5 linked regions of the Homo sapiens genome follow. The protein of the gene in region 5 interacts with the protein of the main gene of each other region in a pairwise test. Each region holds a gene or a part of one and is shown on either strand. Other genes may lie near its edges.

Region 1 (4,621 bases), on a different chromosome or scaffold from region 5:
GGAATCTTTCAGGATCTTTTGTCTGTTTTCATTGTTCTTAAATTTTACACAGATGTGATGTGCTGAGTCTGTTTTCATTATGGACTTTCGGTGAGCTCTTTTAATCTGAAATTCTGATTTCTTAGTCCCCATTTTCCTTGAATTATTTAATTTTCATACCCCTCCATATTCTCTCTTCTCATTTTTGAATTTGAATAAATTTGGGCTTCCCTTGATTTCTATTCTACTTGTTTGTCTTGTTGGTATACTTTCTGGAATATTTCCTAAATTTTACATTCCAACCCTTCTATTGAGTTTTTCTTTTTTTTCTTGAGACGGAGTCGGGCTCTCTTGCCCAGGCTGGAGTGCAATGGCGCAATCTCAGCTTACTGCAGCCTCCGCCTCCCAGGTTCAAGCGGTTCTCGTGCCTCAACCTCCTGAGTACCTGGGATTATAGGTATGCACCACCACGCCTGGCTAATTTTTGTATTTTTAGTGGAGATGTGGTTTCACCATGTTGGCCAGGCTGGTCTCGAACTCTTGACCTCAGGTGATCTGCCTGCCCTGGCCTCCCAAAGTGCTGAGGTTATGGGCGTCAGCCACTGTGCCCGGCCTTCATTTTGGATACAGGTGTTTTTTGTTTGTTTTGACACAGGGTCTTGCTCTGTTGCCCAGGTGGGAGCACAGTGGCATGATCATATCTCACTGGACCCTTGAACTCCCCGGGCTCATGTGATCCGCCCACCTCAAACTCCCAAGTAGCTATGACTACAGGCCCACACCATCACACCTGGTTAATTTTTTTACTTTTTGTAGAGATGGGCACTCCGTATGTTGTCCAGGCTTGTCCTGAACTCCTGGACTCAAGCAATCTTCCCACCTCAGCCTCCCAAAGTGTTGGGATTGGGTAGGAACCACTGCCTCTGGGGTTTTTTTTTTTTTTTTTACACAATGTTTTTATATTTCTTTTGGTTTTTGTTTTCTGGGTTTTTGTTGTTGTTGTTGTTTGTGTTTGTATGTTTTTAAATTTCCAAAAGCTCTTTTTTGTTCTCTGGAGATGATTATAGTCTGTTGCATATAGTTACTTTCTTCAGCTGTCTGGTAATCCTTGGCTGTTTGCGCTTTTAAGAGTGGAATACTATAAAAAACAATTGGAAACTTCAAGTGGGTGGTCCGTGTCAAAATTGGGCTTCACTGTGGGGTGTATCTGGTAGGGATTGTTCTTCAAACAACCCCTCACATTAGTGTCTAGGTATTTTCTTAAGTGTTGACCAGAATTACTCAGAGAACAAAAGTTGTCTGTGCCTGGCGTCCCCTAGTTCAAAGACGCCAAGACTGAAGTCTGTTTTACCTTCAGAAAAATTAAAGGCCTGGCTTGGTGGCTCATGCCTATAATCCCAACACTTTGGGAGGCAGAGATTGGTGGATTGCCTGAGCTCAGCCTAGGCAACCTGGCGAAACCCCATCTCTACCATAAATACAAAAATTAGCTAGGCATGGTGGCACACGCCTGTGGTCCCAGCTACTTGGGAAGCCAAGGTGGGATGATCACTGGAGCCTGGGAAGTTGAGGCAGCAGTGAGCCGTGATTGCACCACTGCACTCCGGATGACAGAGCGAGACCGTGTCTCAGAAAAAAATAATGTTTAAAAAGAAAAAAATTGCTACAGTGCTTTAAAGAGGCAGTTACTCAGGTAGATGGAGTGGGGAAGGAGATTTGAGGACCTAGCTTCTTCTTAGACTTCGAGTCAGTCATCTTCTTCTTAGTCCCTATTCCCTTCCAAAGGTATCTGGTGCCACTAATTTAGTCAGTCACCCTTTGGGGGAGTTCTGTAATGTCAGTCATGTTGCTTCTCATCTTTCCCTGCTTTCAGTTTAGAATTAAGTTTTTTTTTTTTTTTTTTTTTAAATGGAGTTTCGCTCCTGTTGCCCAGGCTAGAATGCAATGGCGCAACCTCCGCCTCCCAGGTTCAAGCGATTCTCCTGCCTCAGCCTCCCAAGTAGCTGAAATCACAGGCATGCACCACCATGCCAGCTAATTTTGATTAAGTTTTCTTGGTCTGCTAACTTAGCTACCACTGTGTTTGCCTTTCAGTTGCCAAAATGTTACTGCTGTTATCTGGCCTTGTGTGTTCATGCCTATTTCCTTTACTGTTTTTATAGGCTCTGAGAATTAAATTTTGTGCCTAAGCTATCTTTAACAAGATGTGATTATACAAATGTCTCAAGCTAAAAATCAGCGGCTACAAATAAAGCTGTAACCAAATTTATGCCAGAGGAATTGTATAGATACCCATGGAGCTTACAAAAGGGGAGCATGATAAGCAAAAAATTGGCAGTTTTTATAGTAGTGTTGTTTCAGGAGTGACAAATAATCTGGAAGACTTGTACATAATGATCACTAGAATTGGGGATAATCTTTTGAGGAGTAGTTTTACAGTAACCTGTGTAAAATCCTGAAGACCGCCCATATTTCTCATCTCTGATGTCATGCTCACTAGATAACTTTTTTTTTTTTTTCTGCAATTTAAGCTATTCTTTTACCAGAAAGGGAGTCCTGGGCAGGAGGCACAGGTTATTTCAAATATTAGAGTGGAGCACTCTACCTAGCGTGCTAACAATAGTGGTTGACATTCTTGGAGCACATACTGTGTACCAGGCAATGCTCTAAGCACTTTATCTATGTTATTAACTCATTGAAGTGTCACATCAGGTAGCTACTAGTTAAAATTCCCTTCTCACAGAAGAGGAGAATAAATTAACGTGAAGTAACTTGACCAATACCACATATTAAGGGGTGGAGCTCCATAAAATAACGTATTAATACAAATTAGTAAATTGGCCTTGTGATTTGTATTTGACTCTGTTCTTGTGGATAATGGGAGTCAAAGAGCCTGATGAATTCCAAGAATATCGGGAAAATCGAGCTTTTGGAACTATAGCAAACACTAGACATAATAGTACCCCTGATTCTAGCAAACACTAGACATAATAGTACCACCTCAAGACACTCTGCCTGAGCAGACATGTGGCCCCTAGGATGTTACTTTTTTATTCTGCTGTCTTGGATCTTATTAATATTTATTTATAACTTGACATTTCCTAAAATTATTCTACGGATTTGACTTTTACTGCTCAAAAATATTAAAATAGTTCAAATGCAGATAGAAAGATTAGCTAGAAAACTGTCAAAACAACATAGCTCAAGTTTGTCTAAGAACAGGTACTTTTGTACTCTTACCTTGACCCTTATTTTGCTTCAGTTGTTCTTCGCCAGGGATTGAAAGGGATAGTGTATGTGAACAGAAGTTTCAAAAAGATAAGTTTCTTTGTAAGTGAGTTCTATAAGAAGGGTGATAGATGATATATATAAAATATCTCTTCATGGCAGGTAATACTGACTGCTTTTCCTCTTGTAATCACTTTACCACTCCGGTATTAAAGACAGTTGTACAGATTCTACTTTAGATTAGAATAATGCAGTAGCTTTTTATTTTCTGTGGCAGGACTGCTCTGAGTATAAAATTTTTTGTAAGGTTGTATTTTCATTACTAATTGAGCTCAATTTTCTGTCTTTTCCTTGCTGAACCAATAGGTCTTGGCTGTTCAACCGTACTTTCTCCAGAAGGATCAGCTCAATTTGCTGCTCAGATATTTGGGTTAAGCAACCATTTGGTATGGAGCAAACTGCGAGCAAGCATTTTGAACACATGGATTTCCTTGAAGCAGGCTGACAAGAAAATCAGAGAATGTAATTTATAAGAAAGAATGCCATTGAATTTTTTAGGGGAAAAACTACAAATTTCTAATTTAGCTGAAGGAAAATCAAGCAAGATGAAAAGGTAATTTTAAATTAGAGAACACAAATAAAATGTATTAGTGAATAAATGCTTCTCTAGATCCATATTAATAAACATGAGCATCTAACCCCTCCTTTCTTAGGCTAGACACCAAGATATTTCAGCCAGCCTTTATCATTCCTCTTACTTTATCCTTTTTCCTTAAGTATTGGTGGTCACTACTATTGAGTTTCTTCCTTAACACTGATTAAATGATCTTAACTCCCTCAGCTAAAACTGGCATTACTGACTCCCAGCTATATTTCTCCAGACTTGCATTTTTTTTTTTTTTTTTGAGACAGGGTCTCACTGTCGCCCAGGCTGGAGTGCAGTGGCGTGATCTCAGTTCACTGCTGCTTTCCCTCCTGGGCTCAAGCAGTTCTCCCACCTCAGCCTCTCGACTAACAGGGACTATAATCTTGCAGCACCATGCCGAGCTAATTTTATTTTTTGTAGAGATGAGCTCTCACTATGTCACCCAGGTTCGTCTCAAACTCCTGAACCCTAGTAATTCTCCTATCTCAGCCTCCCAAAGTGCTAGGGTTACAGACATGAGCCACTGTGCCTGTCTAGACTTGTACTTTCAACTGTCCATTTCTCCCTGTCTGTCCCATGGGCACTCATGAAAAAACAGAATGCTCCCAACTTTATTCATCTTCCAAGCCTGTAGCTCTTGGTATACTCACTGTTGCAAGTCAGAAGCTTGATTTCATCATTGATGTTTTTCTCACGTTTCACATCTCACTCATCACCAAGTCATGTTGGTGTTAATTTCTGATTAACCCTTGAATTTACCGTCTTCTC
Region 2 (4,621 bases), on a different chromosome or scaffold from region 5:
GAGTACTTGGGACTACAGGCATGTGCCACGATGCCTGGCTAATTTTTCTATTTTTTGTAAAGACGGGGTTTCACCATGTTGTCCAGGGTGGTCTTGAACTCCTGGGCTCAAGTGCTGTGCCCACCTGTGTCCCTGGCTCAGACAGGAGATCTGAACAGCATTCTAACACGAAAGCCCAAGCTGTTTCTACACCACACTGCTGCTCCAAAGAGTTGTATCATTTTCATATCTCGTTAAATTCATACTATCATCCCCATGTCTGCAAATGAGGAACCTGAGGCCCAGATGGCTTAAGTGGCTTATCCAAAGTCAGAAAACTGGCAAGTGGTGTGAGCCAGCGTTCAAACCTGAATTGGGCCAACTTCAAAGACCCAGTCCTTCCCACTGTACTAGGCTACTTCCTGGTGGTCAACGGCCCCTGCCCTGCGCTGTCAGGAACAAAGCAGTTCCCGTCCATTCCCCACACCCCTTGTTCTGGCCTTGTCCTTGCCCAGCACCATTACCGTGTTTGGAAAAAAGAGCCAAGTCCATGCCCCTTTTGCTCCGTGCTGGTCACAGCCCGACCACGTCCCCCGCACAGTGGGTGTGTGTCCTCCCCTACCCAGGCAGGGGCAATCCCCCACACCTTGGTCTGCTTCTTCTCCGTGGCATACACGATGGAGGTACAGCACACCTCTGCCAGCTTACGGCCCTGGCCATAAAAGGACCAGCAGCAGATCTCGTCACCAATGACATCCTTGATGAAGAGCACGCGGCCGTTGAAGCGCAGGGAGAGCTTGTCAAACAGCTCGATGTTTTTCAGCAGGTGGTCGTCAGAGTTGCTGAAAAAAACATGAGGGCCAAGCGGCTGGGAGTGAGGTTCCAGTCCAAGGGAGGGTGCTAGACAAGTGGGGCCCTCCCCTCCCTCCCTTCCCCCATCCTGTCCTGCCGAAATGAAAGCAAGATGCCAGGGGGCCAGGAGAGAAAGGATCATAGGGTACCCTCTGGGTTGGGGGGCCTGTGAGGAAAAGGAACTCAGTTGGTTTTAAGTCAAAGTAGGGACAGCTGAGGAAGGAGGTCTCCCCTCACTAACCCTGGAAGGAAGGAGACAAGGCTGCTATGTCAGTGGGAGGCATTCCTTCCCTTACTGTGGGGGTGACAGTGGCAATATGCCTGGCCACAGGGAATCATAGGGAGGGTTTGGGACTCTGAACCTGCAGCCACCTGCGTCTACCTAACTGTGGCCTATGGAGAGGACATGGCCTGGAGGGTGTGGGGAGGGAATCGGCCCAGTGTGAACTGCACAGGCTGGCTTGGGGGACTCCCAGCTCACCGGCCTCCTAGCATCCCCTCCACCCGGTAGGATGACACGTGTGAAAACACCTGCCATGCTGCCTTCGTGATACACGTTGAGGGCGCATTTCACCTTCAATCATTTATATCCCAGCCAGGGCACCCTGCTGAGTTCCAAAGGCCTCTGTCCCAATTTCCCTTCTACTTTCTGTTTTTCCCCAACTTGGCACAGCCAGTTCCAAGACCCAGGCCCAGACCCACGCCGACCGTGCTGGGAGTACAGGCAGTACTCCTTGGGTCTGCTGCCCAGTGTCTGTTGAGCCCTGTGACGCACCCTACCTGGTGTAGGAATACTTGTTGTTGCTTCTGTTGTACAGCAGCTTCACCACGGGCTGTGAAGGAGTTCAGAGTGAGGGGCCAGGCCAGGGGACTGGCATCCCCGGCCCGCACCCCTCAGAGGTCCTGGTACCTTGGTGGAGGATTCGATGAGCCGCTCCTCCTCCTTTAGGGATGTGATGATGGGGATGTTGCACACAGGCTGGTAGGAGTCCTTCTTGTCCTGTGCGACACAGAACAGAGAACCCTCTTTAGGATCTTCTGCTTCCCAGGCTTATCGAGGTATACCTCTGGAGCCCCTCTGCCATGGCCACCCGCTGCTTGGTGAGGAAGTGTCAGATACAGATCATGAGGCCCCTGACAATAGAAACTGCCAGCTGGAAAGCAGACCCCCAGTTAGAAAACCCAAGATCCAGGCCGGGTGCGGTAGCTCACACCTGCAATCCCAGCACTTTGGGAGGCTGAGGCAGGCAGATCACTTGAGCCCAGCAGTTCGAGACTAGCCTGGAAAACATGGTGAAACCTCATCTCTACAAAAAATACAAAGATTAGCTGGGTGCCATGGCGCATGCTGGCATTCCCAGCTACTCTGAAGGCCAAATCACGAGAATCACTTGAACCCAGGAGGCAGAAGTTGCAGTGAGCTGACATCGCACCACTGCACTCCAGCCTGGGTGACAGGAGTGAAACCCTGTCTCAAAAAACAAAAACAAAAACAGAAACAAAAGCAAAAACAGAAAAACCCCCTAAAATCCGGGTAGCAAAGCATAGAAACCAGAAGCAGGGCCTACTCACGCTGCCAAGTGTGAACACCTGGCTGCCAGGTTGGTGGGCCTGGGTGGCATCTCACTTGTCTCATTAGGTTTGCACTCATCAACCACGCCTCCCACACAACCTGCCAGGAACCAGAGTCCTCCATCCCACAAGAAGGGGGCAACTCCTGACCTCATCTGCCCGCCCTGCTCCGCCCCACCCATGTACCTGCAGGGCACTCTGGCACATATTCACCAGCCCCTGGATGAGGTAATACTTTGCTTCAGCCATCAATTCCTTGATTTCTTGCCGGTTCTGAGGGAGGGTGATGGTGTCATCTCGGAGGTAATTCAAAATGGTGCCAAAGTGCTTTCCACAACGGTCTATGAGGATCCAGCCTAGGGGTGCAGAAGGCCCTACAGGGTTAGTTTGCCGCCAGGTACCTCCGAGGCAGGCAAAGGCCACCTGACAAGCTGGCGGCAGGTGGCAGGGAAGGGGGTCCACGAGCACAAAGCCCTTACGCAGGGTGACAGAGGCGGGGATGGAGGTTCTAGCACTCAGGCCCATGGCTGCTCTTCACCCTTCCTCTCTGAAACCCAGAACTGGCACATCCCACGGGGGATACAGCCCTCCAGGCTGTAGAAGCCACAGGGGCCTAGGCTCAGGGTACCAGGCCCAGCCCAACACAGAAACCACCAGCCACTGCCGGCCTTCTGCCCGCTGCCCAGTCTTAAGGTGACGGCTCCTATGAGAATCTTGTCCTATTTAAATATTTTAAAAGTATGGCTCTTCTTCCTGGAAAATGCATAAACACAGCATTCCATATACAATTTCACAGAATTCTGAAGCTCTACTAGGGACTCCAGGTGAAGACACCCTACATAAAGTGAAGAGGAAAAGTGACTGAATTCTAGATCTGGTCATTTCCTTGGGAACTCCTCCTGCCCTCCCCACCCCGAGCGGCAGCCCCAGTGCCTCACCTTCTTTGTCGGTCAGCACCTCCATGCGCCCACTGAACATGGCCTTGAGCATGGTGTCGTGGCGGGTCAGGGCCCGCACAGTGGTGTAGTACAGAGAGCCGCCCACGTTGAGCTGGACATACTTGTTGCCCAACCCTCCTCCCTTGAAGCCACTGAGCTTGGGCTTGGCCCCTGAGGCTGGGCACAGGCAGGTGTCCCCCGACATCTCCCGCTGCAGGTAGATCACCACACGGCAGGAGGTAGGCTTGGAAGGCTCCGCCGTGGTGGAAAGGGTCACGAGTGAGTGGCCAGTGGAGGCCAGAGCCTCATAATCTCAGTGCTGTACATGGGAGAGGGAAGAGAAGACACGAACCAGCTGAGACAGCCCAGGAGGAGACAATAGCAGAAACACGACCGTACTCATTCTCTCCCTGACAAGCCCAAGCACTGCTCCCTGGCAGAGGCTAAGTCCCTGCCATTTTGCTTTCTTTTTTTTTTTTTTTTTTCTTAGAGACAGGGTCTCACTCTGTCACCCAGGCTGGAGTGCAGTGGTGCCATCTCGGCTCACTGCAGCCTTTGCCTCCCAGGCTCAAGTGATCCTCCCACCTCAGCCTCCTGAGTAGCTGGGACCACAGGTGCACACCACCACACCCAGCTAATTTTTTTTTTTTTTTTTTTTGGTAGAGACAGGGTTTTACCATGCTGCCCAGGCTGGTCTCGAATTCCTGAGCGCAGGCGATCCGCCCACCTCAGTCTCCCAAAGTGCTGGGATTATAAGTATGAATCACCGCGTCTGGCCTCCCTGCCATTTTTACTATAGCAGGAACCAGGGCTGGAGGCAGTCTCCCAGACTCCTGCCCTGGTCACCTCATCAGCCTCCCTGAGACTCAGCTCCACTCAGGGCAGCGAGGAAGACAAGCAAACCCATGGAACCAGTTAGAGAGGGCCAGAGGAACAGATCACCCTAGAGATCTACCAGTCAGATTCCAGTTACTTTCTTGTCAAGGTTCCCAGGATCCCAGACTTCCAACCAAACCTACTGGGAATCCAGCCAGTCTAGGAGTTTCCCAGGAGCCAGAGGGACAGGATGCACTTCCTTTCTAAAGATTCCAGCCTCCAGAGCAGTCTGTGCCAGTGTTTATTTTGAGCACCACCGAGAGTCTGGCTTCAGGAAGGAAAGTAAAAGCAGCTTCAGGAGAGAATGCAGTAAGCCAGGGTCGGGGGTGCCGGCCAGTGTTCTTGGTGCAGGTTACCTGGGCTTCGGCTGGGGCTTCCTGACCTTCCCCTTTCTTGGCACCAGC
Region 3 (4,621 bases), on a different chromosome or scaffold from region 5:
TGAACAATACTCCAGGGATGAGTCAAATTTATCCCTTGACAACCCCTGTCTACAAGGATGAGTACGCAGAAGGTATGGGCACCCCAGTTTGCAAACCATGCCTTCATTCCTCATCTTTGATATACCCAGTGTGGAAGGAAGTCTCCTGTAGCATTTCAGTGTCCACTGAGCTTCAACCCACACCAATCATTTCTTACCAGCCCAGAAAATCCTGTTAGAGAAGATCCAACAAGGACATTAAATACAGAATCTCTTGTGCACTTATTCTTAACTGACTGTACTAGGTCCATGCCCCATCGCACTGAAAGACTAAAGTTTCAGAAGCTACTGAGAGCCAGGAATTTCAGAGCCCAGAGATGCCTGTAGGAAAGTTTTTAGAAGAGGGATGTTGGCAGAGGCCAGTTTCCTCATGATTGTCGATAACATTCTATTTCTAACTTGAATGATTTTCAGTATCCCCTTTTCATTGTTAAGATTTTTAATTTACCTTATTGCTAGCAGCGATACAAGAAATACATTTTTTTTTCTTTTTAATAGAGACTGAGTCTCACTGGTCTCAAACTCCTGGGCTCAAGCAATCCTCCCTCCTCAGCCTCCCAAAGTGCTGGCATGAGCCTCCAACCCTGGCCCCTTTCTCTTTTGGAGATAGGATCTCACTCTGTCACCAAGGCTGGAGTGCAGTGGCACAATCATGGCTCACTGCAGCCTTGACTTCCTGGGCTCAGGTGATCCTCTCATCTCAGCCTCTCAAATAGCTGGGACTACATGGGTGCACTACCACGCCCAGCTAATACTTTCTGTATTTTTTCTAGAGATGGGGTTTCGCCATGTTGCCTGGGCTGGTCTCGAACTTCCAGACTCAAGCAATCCACACACCTTGGCCTCCCAAAGTGTTAAGATTACAGGCGTGAGCCACCGTGCCCGGTCAAGAAATACATTTCCTTAGTCAGGGTGCTGGCTGGATAGTTTCATATGCCACTGAGAGAATTTAGGAGCATTTGCCTCTGACATTTGTGTACATTCTTTCATGTCATAGATTATGGGGGAGCTTCAAATGGTTTAAAGGGAGTTTTCCTGGATACTTCAGGTTAAACAGAGAAAGTATCGGGGAAAACTAGGTATACCAGAAAGGGAGACTCTGAGAGAGAAAAAGACAGGCCCCAGGGAAGAAATGAACCACAGAACCACAGTGAAGTTTCAGGTCTCTGGGAGAAACACTGGCTATCGTAACAACAAAACAATATCAAAAGGACAATTCATGAAGACATCAAGAAGTACTTGTTCTGTTGGCCGGGCACGGTGGCTCATGCCTGTAATCCCAGCACTTTGGGAGGCTGAGGCGGGCAGATCACGAGGTCAGGAGATCAAGACCATCCTGGCTAACACGGTGAAACCCCATCTCCATTAAAAATACAAAAAAATTAGCTGGGCATGGTGGCGGGAGCCTGTAGTCCCAGCTACTCAGGAGGCTGAGGCAGGAGAATGGCGTGAACCCGGGAGGCAGCGCTTGCAGTGAGCAGAGATCGTGCCACTGCACTCCAGCCTGGGAGACAGAGTAAGACTCCGTCTCAAAAAAAAAAAAATCAAAAAAAGGACTTATTCTGGGGATTATTAAAGGAGTTTTCTCTCTGTGTGTGTGTGTGTGTGTGTGTGTGTGTGTGTGTGTGTGTGTGTGTGTTGGAAAGGGGAGTAATTTTATCATTATGTCTTAAAATGAAATAATTCACGGGACCCAAAAGGGCAGACATTGACAACACCGTTCAGCAAATACACAGTGTGCTGCTTCCTTACAGCTGTTGTTGGCAAAATGCCACACAAAAGTTATCAGCAGCTGACAATACTCACCACAAACAAACAAACAAACAAAACGAGTGATAGAAACTCGGTAGTAACAATCCTGGTGAGGAGTAAATACAAGTCTCACTGGTGTTTTTGGGAGACCTGTGGGAAGGGCCAGTGGAGGAGAGCCCTCTTGGGACAACTGAACACCACAAAGGGTCATTTCTCCCCTGATCCCAAAGCCCTCGATCTTACACTAACTGCTGGCCAGCAGCCTAGACCAAGTCTCCGAGGAGGAAAGCACTCATTAGTGTAATAGACCGCTTCACCCTCAAACTGGAACTTAAATTGCCAAAATCATTACATGCTTATTACAATTCATTCAAGCTTCAGAACATAAAATTGATACAGAAGGGGAAGGGGGCGTGGCAGGACCTACAGGTTCATAGTTCGGTTTTTCCACCCTCACCCTCAACAACTCCCTGAGATTAAAATGAACAAAGGAATTTTTTTTCTTTTTTCTTTTTTTTTTTTTTTTTTAGGAGAAGGGTGTACTCCTACTATTTCAAACTTAAATATCTTCTGAATAAGAAATGGCTTTCCAGTTCTGTTTGGTAAATTCTCTCAAGTCAGATTTTAAATCGTACACCCAAAAAAAATCCTTGATTTTTTTTTAGCATAAATCTATCCTACTTTACATAAATAACATACATTATGAGAACGGAATTTGCAACACAAAAAGACGGTTATTCATGTTTCCAAAGGGATCAACATTTGAGTTTCTTTCAATGGGTGGCTCTACTGTTTTGTTCACAATGTGGTTTTGTGTCACCTCAACTTTTCAGAAGCACATGGACTACATACATCAAAGTCCACTTGTGCTTTTATTAAAAGTACCCCCAAAGCATTTCAAATGTCACTGTATACATCCCCACAGCTATCTTGTTAAAGGCAAAATACATACATACATACATACATACATACATACATACATACATAAACAACATAATCCTCCTTCATTGCCAACCATTCAACAGTACATTCTGCCCCATAAGCCTTTTTAAACACACTGGGCTCAGCTCGTGGGATTCCTGAAGTGCAATAGCCCTAACACTGTTTTCCAAGGTAGAGATTTCTAAAAGGTGAGATGGAGTACACAGTTGCTTCAAACAGTGTGATCCAGATACAAACACAGTCCCAACATGCACCAGATATGAAATCTCTGTGCCAGAAACCAGGGTCACTGGCACCATGGAATCAAGAACCATTTTCTGTGTGTAAAGTACTAGGTGCCTAGATCTGCCAGTAAGCATCTACCAGTTTCCTAGCATAAAAGTCAGCAAAAGTCAGGAATGAAGCAGCAGGAAAGACAGGGAGTTACACAGTGAGCCTCAACAAAGGTCTCAGAGCAGCTGGGCACTAGCGAGGGCCGCCAATTCTTTCTTACAACTTGAAGGTAATAACAGAGGAGAGGTGATGGTTACTGAGCATTTACAATGGCAAAGCTGTTTGAAGCGCCTTCACACGCATTCACTTATGGTACCTGTTAAACTCCGGGACAGTGATTATGAAACTTTTTGGATGCCTTTACACTCTTTTTATTTATTTATTTATTTATTTATTTATTTATTTATTTATTTGAGATGGAGTTTTGTTCTTGTTGCCCAGGCTGGAGTGCAATGGCACGATCTTGGCTCACCACAACCTCCACCTCACGGGTTCAAGCGATTCTCCTGCCTCAGCCTCCCAAGTAGCTGGGATTATAGGCATGCGCCACCACACCCAGCTAATTTTGTATTTTTAGTAGAGACAGTGTTTCTCCATGTTGATCAGGCTGGTCTCAAATTCCTGACTTCAGGTGATCCGCCTGCCAATCCCAAAGACCTTTTTGTTTATGTGGGTTATATCCACTGATATTTATTGTATTTGAAATTAAAATGAAAAAATAGATATTAACATATTTTAAAATAATACGACTTGGGCAACATAGGTAGGCTTCATTTCTACAAAAAGTAAAAAATTCCACTGGGCCCAATTGTTCATGCCTATAATCTCAGCACTTTGGGAGGACAAGGTGGGAATATTACATGAGTTCAGGAGTTCAAGACCAGCCTAGGCAACAAAGTAAGACCTCATTTATACAAAAATCAAAAAATTACCTGGGCATGATGGCACACACCTGTGGTCCCAGCTACATGGAAGGCTGAGGTAGGAGGATGCCTTGAGTCCACTGGGTTGAGGCTGCAGTAAGCCATGTTCATGCTACTGCACTCTACTCTGGGTGATAGAACAAGCCTTGTCTCAAAATAAATAAATAAATAAATAGCTGGGCATGGTGGGACATGCCTACAGTCCCAGCTACTCAAGAAGCTGAGGTAGGAGGGTTGCTGGAGCCTAGGAGGTTGAGGCTGCTGTGAGCTGTGATCACACCACTGCACTCAGCTTGGGCGACACAGAGACCCTGTCTCAAAAATAAATAAATAAAAAGAAAAAACAATAGTAAACCTATTACACATTAAACATAAATAACATTTTTATGACCAATAACAATATTTTTCCAAAGCAAAAAAAAAATTAGTGAAAAGCATGGCACTGTTTTACAATTTTGCAAATCTCCTTAATGTCTGGGCTTATCAAAGACAGTTGGACTTTCCTATCTGCATCTGTGTTCAATCTGTTGTACTATCTCAGCTTATGTAGACACAAGAAAACTTCACTGTAGTCTTGTGAGAATGAGAATGAAATGGGAAAATTAATATCTTAGTATTATTATGAAAATAGTTTTGACCTTGCAGACCTCCAGTAAAAGTCTTGGGGACTGCTGGGGGTACCCAGGTCACAC
Region 4 (4,621 bases), on a different chromosome or scaffold from region 5:
CCAAAATTGCCCAACATGGCTGCTTCTGCCTTCAAGTGCAGGGGGAGAGAGGCTGCCAGAGGCAGAAATAAAAGGTACACGTCAAGGAGGAGGAGGCAGCGGCGCAGGACAGGAGATCTGGTTCCTCCAGGCCCAGCCGGGTACACAGGCACAGGAAGAGCAGACTCCGGGTGCTCGTCTTGTGTGCCAGGCACTGCCAGGTGCCATCGCCCCGAGAGCATCGGCACTGGCCCCGAATGCTGGTCAAAGGAAGCTAGGTTGGGACACAGGCCGGCAGCGGGTGCAAGATGCCAGGGAGCAGGCGGCCAGGCGGGCCAGCACATGCGGCTGCAGCTCAGCCATCCCCCCCGGGTCCCGGCAGGCTCGGCATGGGTAGGGGACAGCCAGCCCTGGCCACCCCCTCTGGGCCTGGCACCCACCGGTGTTCCCGGATGTCGGCTCGATAATCGTGTCCCCGGGCTTCAGCGTCCCGTCGCGCTCAGCATCCTCAATCATCCGCAGGCTGATGCGGTCCTTCACGCTCCCGCCCGCGTTGAAGAACTCACACTTGGCCACTGGGAGGCAGAGATGAATCACAGAGGGGACCCCCTGACCACCCCCCCATTGATTCCTGCTCACCCCCCCATTACCTGATACACCCCAGGGTGGGGGACGGGCTTGGGGGTCTGTGGGTTCTGAAAAATTGCCACCTCTCCACTCACCTCCCCTACACCTGCACCTGGGCACTAGCCTATCAGAGCTTCTCCCCCTGCAGCCCATCCTACCGGTCCTGCAGGGCGCTGAGCAACTCTGTGGGAACCAGAGAGGCATAAGCAGCCCTCACTGGGGGGCGCCGCAGAAAACCCCGTCCCCCCACCCACGAGCTGGGCTTGTGGCGGGCAGGCGCCTGGATTTGGGTCCCCTACGCCCCTATGCCCAGCCATACCCAGCGGCCCCTGCCAAAGCAGCTTGATGTCCTGAAGCCACAGCACTGGCTTCCCCATCGGATGGGGACTCGCATACTCTCCCTACAGCCTCCCATTGTCCTCCTCCCCCTGTGGGGCGTCACCTGCCCGGGGAAGGGCTCCCTGCGCGGTTCCCGCACAAGGCCAAGGCCTTCACTTGCACTTCCTTCCTTACTGCAAGTCCTCTCTCCCTCTCCAGCTCTTAAAAATATTTAGTTTTTAAGAGCGAGAGACTGGGCTGCATGAAATGTGATTTGAGGGACCTGGGACCAGCCTGCAGCACCTCAAAATTTCTGAAAGCAACCACCAGACAGGTGTTGCCCCTAGAACCAGGACGAGGCGCTGTGTGTGGTGGGGAGGACTCTCGGGGTCTGGCCCTCTACAGGCCTGCATTCTCGGACCCCTCTGGGTCCCATACTGTGAAACCCTCAGTTAGATCATTCTCACTAGCGCCTGGGGGCCAGCTCCGAAGCAGAAATCAGAGCTGGTGGCCTCCGGCAAGCCACGTGACCAACCTGACCCTCGGTGTGTCTGTCTGTAAAACGGGCATTCCAAAACCTACTTCAAGGGCAACCACCAAGTTTAGACGTCATCCTGTACGGAGCACAGTGAGCCAGCCACGCGTGCTGCGTACGAGTTAAGGGTCCCTATTGTCTGACAAATGAGCACAGAGCCGGCCCTGCTGCCTTGGGGGTCTCTGTGAAGGGGGCTGCTCTGCTGCAGCTCCGAGATCTCCTTCCCTAGAGGGGGGCAGAGGAGGGCCAGGCTCCCACGAGGCCCCTCCTGTGAATCGGCGATCGGTTCCCAACGCACCGACCCCTGACTTCCTTCCCCCAGCGCCTGCCCCAGCTCTCACAGGTCCCCCGGCTGGGACATTAGAGCATCTCAGGATGAAAAAGTCCCAAGCCATGTTACTGGTTCCCTCTCCTTCCCACTCGAACTCCACCCCCTCCATCTGGCCCTGTCGCGGGGTTCTCCGCGGCACCCTTCCTGCCTCCCTCCGAACTCACTTGGCCTTGGTCATCTGAAATACGAAATTCCGTCCCCGCCTTGTCCCCAAGGCCTCTGCACCCACAGCTTTCTCTGTGACGATGCTGAGGTCTACCAGGGCTCTGCGCTCTTGGTGAAGAGCGACCCTTAGGAATTCCCTCCACGTTCTTGAGCCTGGAAACTGCGTCCTGCAAAGAAATGCCCTTCCCCGGAGGCCTCAGACCACACCTCAGGTGACCCCCTGCGCACCCAGGACGAGGCCAGCCACAGACCCTCCAAATTCCCATTCTCTGTCTCATAAATGATGAGCTGAACTATCTGTCCCCACGAAGCTGGCAAGACAGAGGTAACCGCTCCCTGGACAGCGGGTGGCTCACAGCACGTGCTAGGACCCGTCCACTGCTCCTTAGCAGGCATGACGCTAACCCTCCCCACCTGCTTGCTTCTGCCTTTGACCCTCACCCGGCCCTTCACACCCTCGCTGCTTCCACTCCGGCCTCAGTTCAAAGGTCACCTGTTCGTTCCCTGGTCCATCTGCTGGGGAGTCACTTTGGTCACCCTCTGACACAATGCCCTGTTGTGTGTTTTTCCCAAACTTAAGCTGATATGTTCTTGGCCACTCATTAACCAGCGAGTTTTCTGATCCCAGGGCCTTGCCTAAGGGATCCATCCCAGGACCCCCCAGGACCCCCCAGGCCCACGGAGCCCAGTGTAGATGGAGGAAGCCCCTCTCCAAAGCCAGGGCACTCACAGAGCTCACACTTCAGGCCGAACTTCTTCCCAATCTTGTTGATTCTGACCATAGGGGTGTCCCCGATTTTCTTCAGAATATCTGGCAAGATTTTTGGAGATTTTGCCCTGAAACAGAGGAGTCCACAATTATTCAGGAAAAAAAAAAAAAATAGTACCAGCCCTGGCAGACATTGTCTTACACAAATCAACACTCGAAGAACTGGAAAAAAAAAAAAAAAAAAAAAAAAAGAACTGGCTTTATCTGGGTGGTGGTTACACAAATCTGTACACAGATACACCTAACACACATCCCACACACACGCCTGAAACACACATACACACACATGCTTAGACATACAAATCTATAAAAAGCAAATCATGCCTGTGGTTTATTTGCACCAATGCCAGCTTCCCAGGTTTGAAAATGAACCTACAGTCGTGGCAGATGTTGTTAGTGGGAAGCTGGGAGAAGGGTACAAAGGATCTATTATTTTTGCCACTTATTGTGAGTAGTAAATTATTTCCAAATAAAAAAGTTAAAATAAGCAAATACTGACTCCAAAACAAAGGTTTAGGTCCACCTTTTCAGAAAGGCTTTACTGGAGATGACATTTCCTTTCATCTCTCAGCATGTGACCATAGGAAGCAAAAAAGTGTCAGGGCAGAGACTCCTTAGACCAGGGACAATGGCTGCAAAGCGCAGGCGGGATGTCTAGCCCTGCACAGAAAATGTCAGGCACGTGGCAGACTCAGAGCCCCGGCAGAGGCGCTGTCGGCCAGGCTCGTGATGCCCTGCCCTGCAGCATCTGGCTGTGTAAACCCTCAAACCCTGGTCCAGGTGGTTTCCTAAATGGCCCTCATGCCCCTGCCATCCTCCCCCAGGGAGATGCTGATGACACCCCCTATCTATCTGCACCAAGCTCACCACATACTCATCTGGGAACACGCATGGCTTACAGCGGTCTCCAGACCCGCAACCCCTCCCTGGGCCTTGCAGCTCCGATGACACCCCGTGGCTAACCCTGGGCCCCCTCTTCAGCACAGTCACCTGCTGAACAGCCAGGGTCCTTGGGTCCTGCCCCCCAGGAGGCGACCCTTAGACCTGGGGTGAACCCAGCTCCCAGAGGTCCTGTGCCATGGAGGGAGTGCCACATTTGCAGGGAGAGCTACCCTGAAGGCCAAAACAGGCGCCAACAAGAGCAGCTGGAATCCAATCGCACCCTTCCCGGGGAGCAGAAGGCAGTCCTGCCAGGTCCCCAAACTGTACAGGGGCCAGGGAGGTTCCCTCAGAAGCAGTTCTCGGCAGAAGGGAACCAGGCTTGGCAGGTGTAGAGAGCCAGGGCCAGGTGGAAAGCCAAGCCCCAGGGTGACAGCGCCGGGGATTAGTTCATTAATTCAGTTCGGGCATCTGGCCAGCCAGGCGGGAAGAGTCCCGCCTCCCTGCAGCAGGTGTGCTGACTCAGCACTGGGCCTCGGTGGCTGTGAAGTTACCTGAGAAGTTTGCAGAGGTGATCAGGGCCAGGCCCAGAGCGCTTAGCAAGAAAAAGGATGTGACTTGCAGGGATAGCCCTGGAGCCCCTTATCTCAAGGACTCCCACTTCCACAGCCCAAGAGGCTCCTGGGAGGACACGCCACTGTCCTAGAATGAACCTCCAACTCCTGACCCACCTCTGCAGCACCTCCCCGCAACGCCACTATTCTCAGGGGCCCTCCGACTGGAGACAAGCGGCGTCGGCTCTGCGTCTCAGGATGGGGGTGTCTTCGGAGGATGAATGAGGCCAGTATGTGAGGTGCAGGTGCAACGCCATTTACAACCTGGAGGGCATCGTCTCCTTCTCATGCCCTAGAGTTAGGAGCTCACGGAGCCCTCAGGAATCGGGCCTGTCTTCCCTGCCCACTCCACCCTCCAGCAGCCACTCCCGACCTCACCGGGCCTCTCACCCACTGCTCTCTTG
Region 5 (4,621 bases):
TACACCTCTGAAGGGAAAAGGGATGGGTCACAAAATACCACCATGGAAAAGTGTTTCCCAGAAACCCGCCATCCCTTTATCCTTTTATAACCCCAATTCTCTACATACCTCTCCAAGTTTCTATCTTGTGTTCTTCTAGCTCATAGATCTGTACCTGAAAGCAGAAGCAACAGAATTTGAGACCTGATCTCTCTGCTTCCTTAAGCCCTCGTGGCTTGCTTGGAGAAAAAGAAATGAGAATGAGGGATTTAGGGCAGGGAAAGTGATTTTGGTCATTGGGTTAAGGTTCCTTACCAAGGCTGATTTATAGTAGCGGTGCAGGATATTGATGAAATCAGTGATGGTCAGCATGCCTAGAGGACAAGACAGAGCCCTCAGCACTGCCTGAAGCTTGTCTCCCTGCCCAGCACAAGATGCCAATAATATTGTGTTCCAGAAACTTTTGCTTACCCACAAAACTTTGCTTCTTACTATCCCATAAAGGGGCAGCTCGTACACCGTTAGTCACCAAAGCAAAAAAAGCTTTCTTCACCTGTAGCCAAGACAGTAATAATCATAAAGGCAAATCCACAGGGGCAGGACTGTAAAAAAAGAACAGTGTTTGGGCATGTTGGGTAAAACATGAGACTAACTTCACAGAAGGATAAGGATATTACCCTTAGGATGAGATAGGATGAGAGGTATTAAACCACAGGCTCCAAAGGGGGAAGGGAAAAGAGGATTTCACCCACCTGCAGGGACGTATCAAATACAACCAATTTGGAGCTTGTGGGAATCAGGTCATAGCAGCGATGAGACTTCATGAAGGAAGTATACACGCTATTGTTGGATTCTGGGGTCTCTGCATAGGGTGGGATAGTTAGTAGCTTCCTTCCACATAAAAACTCCCAATCAAAAGAGACAGAAAACAAAATAGTGTTCTAGTATCTCAAATATTTAGAGCATTATTTTTTAATAAGACCCCTTATTTTATCTGTCTTGTTCCTATTGTTTCCACAAAACCTGGATAAACCTCTTAGAAACCATTTCATCCAACCCCTGTCTCCAGGTTAAGACTTTATCTATTGGTCCCTATAGGTAAAAGAAGTTGACTAAAACATAAAGCCTATAGTATCTCTCTTTAACATGTTATAGTCTAAAAATGTTTCTCATCTTTAATCCAAGCTTTCCCTTTCATATACTTAGCACATTTTCACTTTCCTCTTTTTTCAATGAAGTAAGCTTCTTAAAATTCTTCCAAGACTGTGCTGGGGATGGTGGCAAGCACCTGTAATCCCAGCTACTCAGGAAGTTGAGGCAGAGGATCACTTGAACCCAGGAGCTCGAGGCCAGCCTGGGCAACACAGCGAACCCCTGTCTCAATTAAAAAAAAAATTATTCTAAGACCTGCAAATGGGAAAGTCATGGTCCAAGTTGGGCCATTTCTCATTAACAATAAGTTGGAGCCCAGTGCTCAATCAACCTGGCTCAAAACACCCTGATAGTCCATTCTGGGATCACCCTGTAAATCAGAAATCATCCCACCTACTCTAGACAAATGGGAGATCCTGGCTAGTTTACCTTTTTCTATTCCTGTGATTTTAATTGCTTGCTCTAAACTAGGGAAGTAATCTCCCAAAATAATAGCTTGAATGTGCTACATACTATACTACGTGCACTTAAAAATATTACATTGAGGCTGGGCGTGGTGGCTCATGCCTGTAATCCCAGAACTTTGGGAGGCCAAGGTGGGAGGATCACCTGAGGTCGGGAGTTCAAGACCAGCCTGACCAACATGGATAAACCCTGTCTCTATTAAAAATACAAAATTAGCCGGGCATGGTGGCGCATGCCTGTAATCCCAGCTACTCGGGAGGCTGAGGCAGGAGAATTGCTTGAACCCGGGAGGCAGAGGTTGCGATGAGCCGAGATCGCAACATTGCACTCCAGCCTGGGCAACAAGAGTGAAACTCCGTGTCAAAAAAATAAATAAATAAATAAATAAATTACATTGGCTGGGCGTGGTGGCTCACACCTGTAACCCAGGACTTTGGGAGGCCAAGGTGGGTGGATCACCTGAGGTCAGAAGTTTGAGACCAGCCTGGCCAACATGGCGAAACCCCGTCTCTACTAAAAAAATATAAAAATTAGCCAGGCGTGGTGGCACGTGCCTGTAGTCCCAGCTACTCAGGGGGCTGAGGCAGGAGAATTGCTTGAACCCAGGAGGTGGAGGTTGCAGTGAGACGAGATTGTGCCTCTGCACTCCAGCCTGGGCGACAGAGTGAGACTCCGTCTCAAAAAAAAAAAAAAAAAATTACATAATTTAATCCTTACAACAAATGTGTAAGTAATGTCCTCATGTTTCAGATGAGAAAATAGGTGTAGTTAAATAAACTGCTCAAGGTCACACCATTAATAAGTGGCAAGAAAGACTCAAACAAACCCAGATCTGTTTCCAAACTTCATGCTCTTAAGTCTTTAATCAATTTGGTTTTTAATATTTATTTTTTTAACCAAAGTTATATAGACACACAGTTAAATCAGTCCAACAGTTTTACAAATTTTGTTAAGAAAAAATTGCACTCCTTGCAACCCACCTCCCTGTACTACCCTTCCCCAGAGATGAGAACATCTATCTACCTTAGTTGATTATTTTGGTACTTAATTCTATGTCCTTAAATAACATGCTTGTATTGCTAGTTTCCATTTTTTTTTTCATTTTGGGGCATTATTTATCATCTATCTACCAAAGAAGATGAGAATTTCTAGTTCTCTCTCCTACTAGGACTCCACCACAAACACGTACTTCCCATTCTCCTCATTATTCCAGGAGCTAAACCATAATGTTGGTTATATCCGTATTTCAATCTTTTTTTTTTTTTTTTTTGAGAGGGAGTCTTGCTCTGTCACCCAGGCTGAAGTGCAGTGGCACGATCTCAGGTTACTACAACCTCAGCCTTCCAGGTTCAAGCGATTCTCCTGCCTCAGCCTCGCAAGTAGCTGGGGTTACAGGTGCCCGCCACCATGCCCGGCTAAATTTTGTATTTTAGTAGAGACAGGGTTTCACCACATTGGCCAGGCTGATCTCGAACTCCTGACCTCATGTGATCTGCCCGCTTTGGCCTCCCAAAGTGCTGAGATTACAGGAATGAGCCACTGCACCCGGCCAGTATTTAAATCATTTTGACTGAATATTTATTATTCAGAGATAAGCCAAATAGTAAACTCTGATTTTTTTTTCTTCCTTCACAACTTTGTTTTACCTGGAGTTAATGTCTTGTCCTTTTGTTTAATTTTCTATGTATAATTCTTATAACTAATCCAACCCCCAAATGCTTCACCAACTATTTAAATCTCCTTTTAAGAGGTTCAAAAGCATTAGACAGTCTATCAAAATTTAAACTACCCAAAGAAATCTCCCTGGAGCCTTCTGACCTGCTCAAATCTGGGCTGGTTTGTCTGGTGTGCACTGCTGTCATCCTGGGATCTTTCTTCATCACCATCCTGGGTACCCCTTTCACGTCTGTCCTCTACTGGTGCTCCTATATCGCGTTTTTATCTTTTTTGATTACTCCCTTATTTTGGTGGAACACATCTTCCAGTAGCTTCCTGAGAAAGGGTGCATGGGAGGTATGTGTTTTTGAGACCTTGCAGCCTGTAGATATCTTTATTCTACCCTCATCCTTGGATTTATAATTCGGCTGAATAGAGAATCTGCAGGAAAGCTTGGAATGTGTTTTCCTGCAGAATGTTGAAGGCATTGCTCCATTGCCTGCTAGCTGCTGGTGTTGTTGAGAGTCCAAGGCAATTCTGACTTTTTGTATGTGACTTTTTTTTCCTCTCTCTGAAAACTCATAGGATCTCTGTTTCCAGTGTTCTGAAATCTCAGGATGACTGTGCTTTGGGTGGGTCACTTTCATCCATTGTGCTGAATATTCGATGGGTCCTTTCAATATGAAAACTAATGTCCTCAAGTTCCAATAAATGTTCTTGAATTAGTTCCTCAATTATTTCCTTCCCTCTGTGTTGCCATTTTTCTTTTTCTATGACTCCTATTTAGATACTGGACCTCCTAGACTGATCCTTTAAATGTTTGTTTGTTTTGTGGGTTGTTGGAATCTTTCCTCTCCTTTTTTTTTTTTTTTTTTAAAGAGACAGGCTTTCATTCTGTTACCCAGGCTGGAGTACAATGGCGAGATCATGGCTCACCTGCAGCCTTGACCTTCTGGGCTCAAGCAATTCTCCTATCTCAGCCTCCTGAGTAGCTGGGACTACAAGTGTATGCCACTATGCCTGGCTAATTTTTATTTTTTTGTAGAGACAGGGTCTTGCTGTGTTGCTGAGCTGGTCTTGAACTCCTGGCCTCCCGCCTCAGTCTCCCAAAGTGCTGGGATTACAGGTATGAGCCACTGCACCTTCTCTCCTATTTTCTACTTTGTTGATTTTTAACTCTCCTTTCTGGGAAATTTCCTCATGTTGATTTTTGAAACCTCCAGCTGGGTTTAAATTTTTGCTACTATATTTTTAATTTCCAAGAGTTCCTTTTTGTTTTCTGAAAATTCCTTCTTTAAAAAATTGTATCCTATACTTGTTTCATGGTGGAAATAAGGTTTTTTGTTGTTGTTGTTTTTGTTTTTTTGAG

The links.
Region 1: the proteins of PRKAG1 (region 5) and PAICS interact in a two-hybrid assay, tested with the Homo sapiens proteins (one large-scale study listed by BioGRID and IntAct).
Region 2: the proteins of PRKAG1 (region 5) and TNFAIP1 interact in binary tests that used the Homo sapiens proteins (3 or more experiments, as listed by UniProt).
Region 3: the proteins of PRKAG1 (region 5) and AP1S3 interact in a two-hybrid assay, tested with the Homo sapiens proteins (one large-scale study listed by BioGRID and IntAct).
Region 4: the proteins of PRKAG1 (region 5) and CBS interact in binary tests that used the Homo sapiens proteins (3 or more experiments, as listed by UniProt).

What each region holds. Positions count from the first base shown.
Region 1 is NC_000004.12:56,455,799-56,460,419, forward strand, and holds part of PAICS (bifunctional phosphoribosylaminoimidazole carboxylase/phosphoribosylaminoimidazole succinocarboxamide synthetase), read left to right. Parts: intron 1-3,573; coding exon 3,574-3,740; 3' UTR 3,741-4,621. UniProt on the Homo sapiens protein: Bifunctional phosphoribosylaminoimidazole carboxylase and phosphoribosylaminoimidazole succinocarboxamide synthetase catalyzing two reactions of the de novo purine biosynthetic pathway.
Region 2 is NC_000017.11:28,338,447-28,343,067, reverse strand, and holds part of TNFAIP1 (BTB/POZ domain-containing adapter for CUL3-mediated RhoA degradation protein 2), read right to left. Parts: intron 3,661-4,621; 5' UTR 3,547-3,660; coding exon 3,342-3,546; intron 2,760-3,341; coding exon 2,590-2,759; intron 1,832-2,589; coding exon 1,742-1,831; intron 1,665-1,741; coding exon 1,612-1,664; intron 822-1,611; coding exon 626-821; coding exon of another isoform or gene 504-625; intron 1-503. UniProt on the Homo sapiens protein: Substrate-specific adapter of a BCR (BTB-CUL3-RBX1) E3 ubiquitin-protein ligase complex involved in regulation of cytoskeleton structure.
Region 3 is NC_000002.12:223,830,507-223,835,127, forward strand, and holds part of AP1S3 (AP-1 complex subunit sigma-3), read right to left. Parts: intron 1-4,621. UniProt on the Homo sapiens protein: Subunit of clathrin-associated adaptor protein complex 1 that plays a role in protein sorting in the late-Golgi/trans-Golgi network (TGN) and/or endosomes.
Region 4 is NC_000021.9:43,065,824-43,070,444, forward strand, and holds part of CBS (cystathionine beta-synthase), read right to left. Parts: intron 2,793-4,621; coding exon 2,686-2,792; intron 2,582-2,685; exon of another isoform or gene 2,234-2,581; coding exon of another isoform or gene 1,955-2,233; exon of another isoform or gene 811-1,954; coding exon of another isoform or gene 702-810; intron 555-701; coding exon 420-554; intron 1-419. UniProt on the Homo sapiens protein: Hydro-lyase catalyzing the first step of the transsulfuration pathway, where the hydroxyl group of L-serine is displaced by L-homocysteine in a beta-replacement reaction to form L-cystathionine, the precursor of L-cysteine.
Region 5 is NC_000012.12:49,005,012-49,009,632, forward strand, and holds part of PRKAG1 (5'-AMP-activated protein kinase subunit gamma-1), read right to left. Parts: intron 4,379-4,621; exon of another isoform or gene 4,298-4,378; intron 3,589-4,297; exon of another isoform or gene 3,415-3,588; intron 842-3,414; coding exon 732-841; intron 582-731; exon of another isoform or gene 533-581; coding exon 451-532; intron 381-450; coding exon of another isoform or gene 354-380; coding exon 295-353; intron 155-294; coding exon 109-154; intron 8-108; coding exon 1-7. UniProt on the Homo sapiens protein: AMP/ATP-binding subunit of AMP-activated protein kinase (AMPK), an energy sensor protein kinase that plays a key role in regulating cellular energy metabolism.